Linked DNA regions of Homo sapiens: region 1 is linked to region 2. Evidence: fine-mapped expression QTL. A gene starts in region 2. The other region holds a variant in brackets. All regions are shown on one strand. Distances are from middle to middle.

The links.
Region 1: its variant is fine-mapped to the expression of LINC01270 in whole blood (TOPMed, PIP 0.96).

What each region holds. Positions count from the first base shown.
Region 1 is chr20:50,336,658-50,342,028 of GRCh38, forward strand. No RefSeq gene overlaps it. Among named protein-coding and RNA genes, the nearest start is that of LINC01271, 18 kb to the left of the region's middle. RefSeq lists an enhancer at 2,457-2,656. The variant A/G (reference allele first, on the strand shown) is at 2,401.
Region 2 is chr20:50,290,041-50,295,411 of GRCh38, forward strand. LINC01270 (long intergenic non-protein coding RNA 1270) reads left to right here and starts at 2,680. Exons shown (of 5, transcript NR_034124.1): 1 at 2,680-2,790. RefSeq lists enhancers at 2,233-2,969, 4,083-4,583.

The sequences.
Region 1 (5,371 bases), 47 kb after region 2:
AACATGCAGATGGAAATAAACACATGAAAAAATGTTCAACATCATTAGCCATTAGGGAAATGCAAATTAAGGCCACAATCGGATATTGCTACACACCTATCAGAATGACCAAAATAAAAAACGATGGGAACTTTCGCATTCAATCACTGGTGAGGAATGGAGACACTAGAACACTCATACATTCCTGATGGGAATGTAAAACGGTACCGTATTCTGGAAAACAGTTTTTTAAAAACTGCCTTATGACTTGGCAGTTGCAATCCTGGACATAAAAATGAAAACTTATGTTTGTGCAAAAACTTATGCTCAAATCTTCATAGCAGCTCTCTTCATAATAGGCAAAAACTGGTAAACCACCCGGAAGCCTGTCTATGGTTTTTTTTAACTAAAAAAAGCTGTGTTATATCCATACTATGGACTGCTACTTGCAATACAAAGGAATAAAATATTGATAACACACAATTTGAATAAATCTTCAGAGAATTATGCTGAGTGAAAAAAACCAGTCCTCAAAGGTTACATAAACTATATGATTCCATTTATGTAACATTCTTGAAACCACACAATTATAGAAATGGAGAACAGATTAGTGGTTGCCATGGCTCGGGGGCAGGGTTGGGGGTGGGAGATGGGTTTGGTTATACAAGGGCAATGAGGGATCCTCGTGGTGATAGAAATGTCTGTATCTTGACTATATCACTGTCAATATCTTTATTGTGACTGTTAACATTGGGGGAAACTGGAAAGGGTATATGGACTCTCTCTGTTTATTTCTTACAACTGCATGTAAATCTATAATAATCTCAAAAGAATACATTTTAAAAAGAATATATTATACAATTTTCTATACCCAGACACTACTAAATATAATTATATCTTTGGTAACACAGACACACTGTTCTCAGATAACGGAAGTAGTGCGGTGATTATGTGTGTGACTTGACAATGGGATGGGCTGGGTTCAAATCTCAGCTACCAGTCCCTTCACCTCCTTGGGCCTCAGTTTCCACACCTGCAGGTGCTGAGCAATGAGAGGAACTGTCTCGTGGGGTTGCTGGGGGGACACGATGACGTGATTCATGAGACATGCAGAGCACAATGCTCACTTGCAGTGGCTGCCCAGTAAATGAAATTGCCACTTTTCCGGGCTGTAGAAAAGGCTACAGGTAGAGGCAGGCAGAGGATTGGACCCGAGAGCATCCTCTGAGAGCTCTAGATTGGGATCATGTCTCACCAGCCAGGGGGTTTGTTTTGACTTCTTTCTTGCAGGGAAGTGTCTGCTGAGTGGTCCATTCCACTCCCCTGAGTTTGGCCTGGTCGCTTCTTGTCTGCCCTCTGGACCCCGGTGGGTGCAAACTTTCATGGGTGTCTCTCCACCTGGAGCCTGTGGTTGGGACTGCTCAGGTGGGGACACAGCCTGGGGGGTGATCCTCTGTAAGGCAAAATGGAGCAGGAGTGGAACCCATGCCTACTGCATACCTATTGTGTGCCTTGTGACTTACGTGCTGCAGCTCACGGAATTCTCCCAACAACTTTGAGCAGTAGGTGCTATAATCACTCCTGCGTGATCCAGAGAAAACCGAGACTTGGTGAGGGGAATGGACTTGTCCAAGGTTGTGCAACTAGTAGGTGGCAGAGCTGAGATCTGAGCCCTGGTCTGTCTGATTTAAATCCAGAATCATTTTCACTGTTGATAATAACCTCACCACTTATTAAGTATCTACTAGAGTAATCAATATGCTAGCTCTTTCCATTGAGGTATGATCACCTTTCCATTTTAGAGAAGAGGAAATAGGGGTTAGGCAAGGTGCATTGCCAAGATGGACAACAGCTCTCAAAAAACAGCCAACCTTGCAGCCAACGGGCAGCTTTCTTGTGTGCCCCCAACCCCACCTGTAGCTCCAGCCCAGCTCAGCCAAGATCACTCAAGCTTTGGGACTTTTAAATGCTGAGTCAGCAAACAGCCCCTACCTTGAGATACTCTGCCTAGGCAGACTGTGGTTGTTTGCACTTCAGCTTCAGGCCTCCAGGGTCAGCTGAGATAGCAAGACCTTCCCCTGGGGGCTGGATGGGGTCATTGGGAGCCACTGAGAGACCCTTTCCCCACTTGGCCTGGCAGACAGAGTGGCAGTTGGAAGAGGCTCGAGGTGGCTGTGGTGGTAACAACTTCCTTTTGAGTAATAACATTTACTGAAAAGCAATTCTGCTTTTAGCACCAGAAGTTCACCATCCTTGCAAGCAGGCGCCTAAGAATACCTTCATTCAACCACAGTTCAGAGATTCACAGACTTCCTTTTGCACTCCCTCCAGGAGAGTTTCACATTTGGTGTTGAGGGAAAACCAAATACCACAATTATTGGAGGGGGTGGGAGGGGTGTTGAGAGGGAGGTGATGCGAAGG[A/G]GGCCAGGTGGCATCAACCACAGCCCCCAAGGCCTCACAGGCAGCCTCTGGGCAGCGGCTCAGCCTCTCGCCCTCAGTTACTGGAAAGACAGCGGACGAGCTCATAATGAAACCGACAGGCTGACAATTTATCTTCCTTTTACAAGAAAAAGAAAGTGATTGTCCTTCAAACAAGCATGACTTTGGAAGCCAGGGACTTACCCTGGCCACTCTGCAAATTAGAGACAGAGCCAGGCTGCTCCAGAGGCCCCGAGCCCCTGCCTGTCACCCCCAATTAGCGCTGGAGTTCTTTAGGCTCGTTTTTTCTATTGCCCAAAATCCAGTCTACTGGGGCATAATGGGGACTTATGGAAAGAAAAAAATCCAATCTGCACTTGGGAGGGGATAGCCTTAAATGTTAGGCACTCACCGCAGGCAGCTGGGGGTGGCTGAGGGCAAGGGAGAAGGCATGGGTGGGGAAGGAGGGGATGTGCCAGGCAGAGCCAGGAGGCTCCAAAAAGCAGCTCTAAAAAGCTCTCCCCCTCCCAGCAATCCAGCCTCCTGACTCACGCCAGACACAGAGGCAGCTGATGGGATGGGAAGAGGCTGGCTTTGGGAGCCACAGGGATGTGGGGGCAAACTCCAGCTCTGCCACTTGCTGGCTGTGTGACCTTGGGTGGGTAACTTCACCTCTCTGAGACTCAGTTTCCTCACCTTTAAGATGAGGATGAGTATAGGAGGTCAGGACATGACCTTCCTGTGCTCAAAACCCTCCCACGGCTCCCACCTCACTTGGCAGAAAGTCAAAGATCTCTGTGGCCTACCAGGCCCTACAAGATCTTTCCCATGCTTCCCTTATAACCTCATCTCTCTCTCTCTGTCTCTTTTTTTTTTTTTTTTTTTAAGACAGGGTCTCACTTTGTCACCCAGGCTGGAGTGCAGTGGTGCCAACACATCTCACTACAGCCTCAACCTCCTGGGCTCAAGTCATCCTCTCACCTCAGCCTCCCAGATAGGTAGGACTACAGACACATGCCTCCACGGCCAGCTAATTTTTGTATTTTTTGTAGTAGAGATGGGGTTTTGCCATGTTGCCCAGGCTGGTCTCGAACTCCTGAGCTCAAGTGATCTGCCCACCTTGGCCTTCCAAAGTGCTTGGGATTACAGGTGTGAGTCACCGCGCCTGGCCCATCTCCTCTTACTCACTCTCTCTGGTTCCCTCTACCCCTGCCACACTGGGCTCCTCTTTGTTCCTCCAACATGCTAAGCACACGCCTACCTCGGGGCTTTTGCACACACTGTTTCCGCTGCCTTCAGCATCCTTCCTCCAGATAGCCACAGGGCTTCTTCCCTCTCCTGATCTGGGTGTCTGCTTAAATGACCCCGGGGGTCCTGCTCTGACCCCCGGCCCTTCCAAATTGCTCCCCTGGCCTTACCTCTTCACCCTGCGTGAATGTTTTCCCATAACACTGACCACTACTTGACACAATAATTTAGGGGGTTCATAACTCCCCATTGGCCAGACTGTAAGCTCCCAGCAGGCAGAGGCCAGTTCTCCACTGTCCTCCATTAAATCTCAGAGCCTGGCACATAGGGGGCACTCATCCAGCATTGAATGAACAGATGCAGGGTTTTGTGGTGAGAAGGGAAGAAGGACGTGTGTGGCGGGTTCAGCACCAGCCCAGGGTGCGTGCTCACTGTCACTTCTTCTCTCCTCTGCCCAGCACCAGCCCCATGTCATGTGCTTGTTGAATTCCTACAATGGAAGGATGCATTTTACAGATGCAGGAATGAGACCACAGAGCCCAAGCGACTGTCTCAGCCCGCAGCGGGGCAAGGCTTTGAATTCTGGTCTGCGGGTCTCTTGGCCTCCAGGACAATGGTGACAGTGTCCAGTCTGACTTGGGGTCTGGGTGAGAGAAATGGCTGGTGGGGCCATCAGACTCTTGAGAAGAGGCCCTGGCTTTGAGGATCTCCAGCCGACATCTGGGCTTAGGACTGGGGTTCACGCCCCGTCCTCCTGTCCCACAGTCCCACATTCTGCCCCAAAGCAGAATGCAAGCCCCATCAAGGAGGCTCAGGGTTTCCAGAGAGGGGCTTCCTCAACTTTCTGTTGCTGGAAAGTTCTGTCCCAGAAAGGGCAGACGCTTGAGGAGCTCCTGGATCCGGCAGAAGGCTCTGAGACTAGGAGACCCCTGGTGTCCTCGCTCCCCGGCACCCCGCCAGTTCTCGAATACAAGGGACTTTCCAGAGAAGTCAGCCTCCTGGCTGCCTCCAAGCCTGCCCAGGCCTGCAGGCCCAGGTCTCCATGAAGCTCAGTCCTGCCTCGGTTTCCCTGTTTTTAATTTCTTGGAGAGGCCAAGGAGTTTGGAGGTGAACAGCCTCATACGAGCACTAATTTCCCCTAGGCCTGGGGCATAGGAATTTTGGAGCCATAAACAGGCTTCTCACAGCCCCCATGATGAGTCCTCCCCACACTCCATCCACCCTGGACTCTGGGCTGAGCTGGGCAAGGAGCTGGTCTGGGGTGGGCTGGGTGTTGCCTGTGGGTGCGGCTCAGAGCTGGGGGCGCTACCTCTGCCCTTCTGTCCCCCATCAGAGCTGCCCCAGCTGTATGAGAACCCCTCCCACAATGGCTACAACAGAGGGCACGCAAGTGAGACGCCAGGAAGAACTGCTTCAGCTTCGTTATCCTCAAAGGTGTTCGTACCCATCAAGCCTCCTAGAGCAGACCTCCATGACAGCTGCCCATGGGACAGGTCCACTCTGGAGATATGTTTAGTTTGGTCCTTAAAGTATTTTTTTTTAATGTGAATCAATTGCCAACATCTGACATGCCAGGAGATTTCACATAAAGTCCTTTTCTCTGGCTTCTCTTGAAAAATGGGAAGATGTGGCCATACTGGGCCCACATTCCTACTGGACACAGGAGGCCTGGGAGTGGGGTTGCGGGAGGCCCTTTCTTAGTGGCACATAGTAGGTACTTTCCTGT
Region 2 (5,371 bases):
CAGGGGGCGGAGGAGTGTGAGCGAGCATGTGTGGCGGGAATATGGAAGACTGTTTTCCAGGTGGAGGGAGGTAAGAAGACGGGGAACTGGAAAAAGAGTTGAAGGAGACGGGTTGATGAGGATGATGGGGAATACACGGACACGGAAGGTCAGACTGGACCCAAAAGAGGGTTGGAAAAATCACCCAAACACTTCAATAATATTAGTAACTTCACTTCTGAAATTGTGTGGCAACAAGCAGCGCGTTTATTTTACCACTTACTTCGGGTTCTTGGCAACCCTGCGTACACCAGGGAACGCTTGCCCAACAAGAAACATTCTCACTCGCAGATTGTTTACAAACGCCTCGAAAATTTTTGTAATATTTTTGTAAATATTAAATTAGAAATTTAATATAGAATTATAAAGTGTGAGTGGGTTAATTAAAGATTTTAAAATTTCAACTTAGCAGGTTTTTCTTTTTCTTTTTTTTGAGACAGGGTCGCGCCTAGCAGGCTGGAGTGCAGTGGTACAATCTCAGCTCACTGCAACCTCCACATCCCGGGTTCAAGTGATTCTCCCACATCGGCCTCCTGAGTAGCTGGGACTACAGGCATGCACCACCACACCTGGCTAAGTTTTGTATTTTTTGATAGAGACAGGGTTTCACCATGTTGGCCAGGCTGGTCTCCAACTCCTGACTGCAAGTGATCCACCTGCCTCGGCCTCCCAAAGTGCTGGGATTACAGTAGTGAGCCACCACACCTGGCCAGCAGATTTCTTTAAGTATTTTAGAGGCAATATTTTTTCCCCAAAATCTCCCTTGTGCAAATTTTCTACCTCACAGCTGCCAAAATTTGAGGTGGTGGACAAAAATAGTTGATATATAATGATAGAAAGACGTAAGTGAGGTATATATATAGAGAGAGTCTAGAAAGAGTTCGCTTTCAAAGGGGAGGATCAGGGCAGTCTCCCTGGAGGAGGAGGTTTTGAATACGTGCGTTGAAGGGTGGGTGAAATCCAGACCAGGCAGGTGGGTTAGGGAAAGTGAGGGCATGCCGGGTGAAGGGCCCTGTGTGTGCACAAGGGTGAGGTGGGAATGATGAGTGTGAGAGTTTGTACCAAGGGGGCTGGGGCTGGGGTGCCAAGAACCAAAGAGCCATGATAAGGCCTGTCTGGGGCTCAGCCAAACTGGGGAGTAGTACACGAGAAGAGGAATGGGGAGCCCTAGAGGGTTTTAAGTAGGGGAGGAACGTGGAGTCCATAGCAAGGCAGAGTGGCTGGTGGGGAGGTGGGGAGGATGCCATGGCAACCATTCACGCCAAGCCTCAGCCCCGACCCTCAAGGAGGCAGGCAAGGCTGAGCTTCCCTTTCCAGATTGTTTGTGGGTGCAAAAGGGCAGCAAAGAATGTGGGTGCCTTGTCCTTCTGCCCATGGTCTAGTGTCCTTCCCCTCACCCCAGTCCCAGTGGAGCCATCATAGGTGAAATATAAGAACAAGTCACCTGCGTTCAGTGGCTGCAGAATACCTGGCCTCGCACAGAAGGCTGCGGGGATTTCTGCTCATTCATTCTTCCCACCTGCCGCATGAGGGAGGTGCTATGTCCATTTTACAGAGGACACTGAGTCCCAGAGAGGCTAAGCGGCATGCCCGAGGTTACACAGCCAAGAAGGGGCACAGCAAGATTCAACCCAAAAGTCTGCACTCCAGCCACTGCCCTATCATGACACTCACGAGCTCCCACCAAGTCTGGCTCCAGTGTTTCCAGTACCATAATCATCCCCATTTACCAGATGGGTAAACTGAGGCTCTGAGAGGTGGAGTCACTTGCCTGAGGCCATACAGCAGGAAGGGTAAAAGTAAAGATTTGAATCCCTGGGTCTAGTCGACTCTGGAGCCTGCTGTTCTCCCACCATACACCTCAGCTGCTCGCCCTCCTGGGCATCTGTTTCCTCATCTGATGAACAGGGGTGACGGCGATGCCTCCCTGGCAAGGTCCGCAGAGGATCCCGGGTGGTGTATGTCAATCACCCAGCTCAGTGCCTGGCACTCAGTGGATGCTTTAAACGTGATGCCTGTGTTTATTCGTATAAAGGTGGCTGAATATTAAATGGGTGGATTTATGGAAGGCACTTATGGTAATGCCCTGTACATAATAGATGCTCAAGAAACACTAGAAGCAGTTACTATGATTATAGGATCGACCACAGGGGACAGCCCAGTAACCCCTCAAAGTTGCTTCCTTCCCAAGTTGCCTTCCATTTATTTCTCCCTTCATCCAACACACTGGCCTTAGGGTCCAGGTTAGGATTTGGGGGCTTGGGGGGCTTAGGTTACAATTTGAGGTGATTTGTCCCCCCCTGCCCATCAGTCAGAGTGATGCTGAGAGCACTGGATGATAAGACCAGAATTCTAGGTCCGCGCCCCGGACCTGCTGTGTGATCTCTGGCAACTGCCTTGCCCTCTCTGGGCCTTGGTTTCTCCTTTCATCTGCAGAGCCTGGGCCAGGCTGCCCTGGGAGGTGCCAGCCCCGAATGGGGCCGGGGGCAGTTCCTGTGTCCCCTTGGCCACCAGCCTCCATCTCCTGCCTCTTGAGCTGCAGGCCCGCCCGGCTCAGCTGTGACGACGAACCAGCCAATCTGTTTACTGAACTGGCTGACCCCTTCCGGGAACTCGGCCCAAGCTTCCCAGAACTCGGGTATTAATGACCCGGAGCCACATGACGGAGCATGACACAGCACTTTTGGGCACAAGGCAGGGCCCAGAGGGGTGCGTGGGGGCCGCAGCCCAGCCCCCAAGCCCCGCCAGCGGGTGAGTCACCTGGGCCCCCTGCAGCTTCCTGATCCCGGCCACTCAGCTGTCCTCCCCACCCCCAGGATATCCCCAGTTGTCAGGGCTGCCCTGGGACCCCTCGACCTTTGCACTAGGGACTTAGCAGCCGTCTTGGGTGATCAGGGCTGCCTTCTGGGATTACAGATGGGGACAGTGAGGCCTGCAGGACTGGAGTGAATGAACAGTGAGCTCTGAGTAAACGTCCACTGTGCGGGAGGCACTGTGCAAATACGTCACGTTAGTCTCGCAGCGATGCAACACAGTGGCGTAGTTTAATCCCCATATGATAGATGGGGAAACTGAGGCTCAGAGCGGGAATGAATTCTCCCAAGGGCATGCAACAAGAGCACTCTGTTTGACTGGAAATAATTTCCTTTCGTCTCCTCAGCAGCCGACAAGGGAGGTGCCATGTGGACTGTTTCACAGCTGGAGAAACTGAGGCACAGAGGGGCTGAGTCACCTGCCTAACGCACTGAGCAGTCTGGCTCCAGGACCTGTGCTCTGAACCAGCACCTGGCACATAGCTGGCACCGACATGGTCTCCGTGCACTGCCATGGATGAGAGCAATGCTGGCTGCGGTGTCGGGCGGAGCTGGGTTCCAATGCTGACTTCACCTTTCTCAGGCTGCACAGCCTGGAGCACGTGGCTGCACCCTACCGTGCGTCAGTTTCCTCACCTGTGAAGGGTGATCGTGGTGGTCCTGATCTTGCAGAACTGCAGTGAGGGCTGTGAGTGTGGGGTGTCTCAACTGCACCTGGACACGCAGAAGGCACTCTGTGAACACTGACTTTCATTGGCCCAGGCCTCTGAATCCATGACAGTTCAATCTCTGAACCCCACAGCTTCCTCCTTCACCCTTTGCCGCCCCAGGGCAAGGTGAGGGCGGTGGTTTTTATGGGCCTGGGAACCAGACAGGCTCGGGCTCAGAGGGGGCGCCTGCTGCTGGCGGGAGTGGGGCCTCCTGGTTCCCACTCCCTGATTTTGGGCTGGGGGCCGGTGGTGGGCAGGGGTGGGGCAGCACTTTGATGTTCTTCCCTTCATTCCACCACCACTGCTTGAGCACCTACTGTATGCCAGGCTCCAGGGGACCCAGCAGTGAACAAGGTCTCTGCCCTCACTATGGTGGAGGAGAGGATGGAGGAGATAAACATCGGTGAGCAAATGCTTGAAGAGGCGAGAGGATTTCACCAGAGAGAAGGGCCGTGATGGGAATCAGCAGGGGTGTTTGGGAGCTGAGTGGGTCAGAGAGGGCTTTTCTGAGGCGGTGATGTGGAGCAGATGCCTGAAGGAGAAGAAGGACCAGACCTGGGGAAGAGATTTCCAGCAGAGGGAAACTCACCACAGCACGTGCAAAGGCCCTGAGGGTGGGAATGGGTTTGGGAAGTTCCAGGAAAGGCAAGGAGGCTGAAGGGGTGTGAGGAGGGGACAGCAGCAGGACATGGTGCTGGAGGGCCAGCAGGGGTTGGACCATGCAGGGCTTGGTGGGCTGAGTGAGCAGCCGCGGCTGGGACTTGGGCAGGAGCCTATGTGAGAGATGGCAAGACTGCCTGAGATCGCATTCAGAACTTCTACCCATCTCACAGATGAGCTCAGTGAGGCCCGAGCCAGCTTCCCCTAGAAGGTCAGTGGCTGGACAGGCATGAGAATCGAGGGAGTTCAACTCCCCCGGAGAAGCCAGAAGCCAGAACACAGGCCGTGGAGGAGAGGGTCCCACATTCATCCCTGCAGCCCCGAGAGCTGTGGGCTGTGGGGCTGCCTGGATGGCTTCCTGGCGGAGGAGGTGACCTCCAAGCTGTGGCTGGGGCAGAAGGGCTGGGAGAGCGTTCCCAGTAGGGGAAGCAGCACACAGACAGGCCCAGAGGTGGCGGTGAGGTGCAGGCGTTGTCTGGGAAATTCATCACTGCTTGGGAGTCAGGAAAGTGACCGGGTGAGGAAGTGTTATTGTCAGGGTCTCCCTTTCAGAAGGCCTTGGGGCCAAGGGGAGGAGCTGGAATTGCCTTCCACCGCGTGCAGACCCCAGGCTGGATCCCAGGACTGCCCAGGGACAGGCACACGTCTGCCCTCATGTGGCCCACAGTCCAGGGGCAGGGACTGTCTGGAGAGATTAGGGCCATGGGGGGCAGGAGGGCGGAGGGGCAGACCTCCCATCCTAGTTCCAATCTCAGTGCTGTGACACACTCCCTGTGTGACTTGGGGCAAGTCACTTTACCTCTCTGAGCCTCTGTGTCCTCATCCATAAATACCACCTGGAAAGATATTCTCAGAACTCAGTGAGATCATTCGCTCATTCGTCCACTCATTTATTCCTTGGATTTTTTTTAGCGCTTCCTATATGCCAGGTCCTGGGCTGGGTGCTGGGGACACAGCAGTGACAAAAATCCCTGCCCTTGTAGGGCTGATGGAAGAGGTAGTGTAAAGCAGTGAGTGGTTAAGAACACAGACATTGGAGCCAGGGGCCTTGGGTTAACTCCTGGCCCACTGCTTATTTGCTGTGTGGTTTTGGGTGAGACACTTTACCTCTTTGCATCCTACCTGTAAGATGCCACGTCATAGGATTGC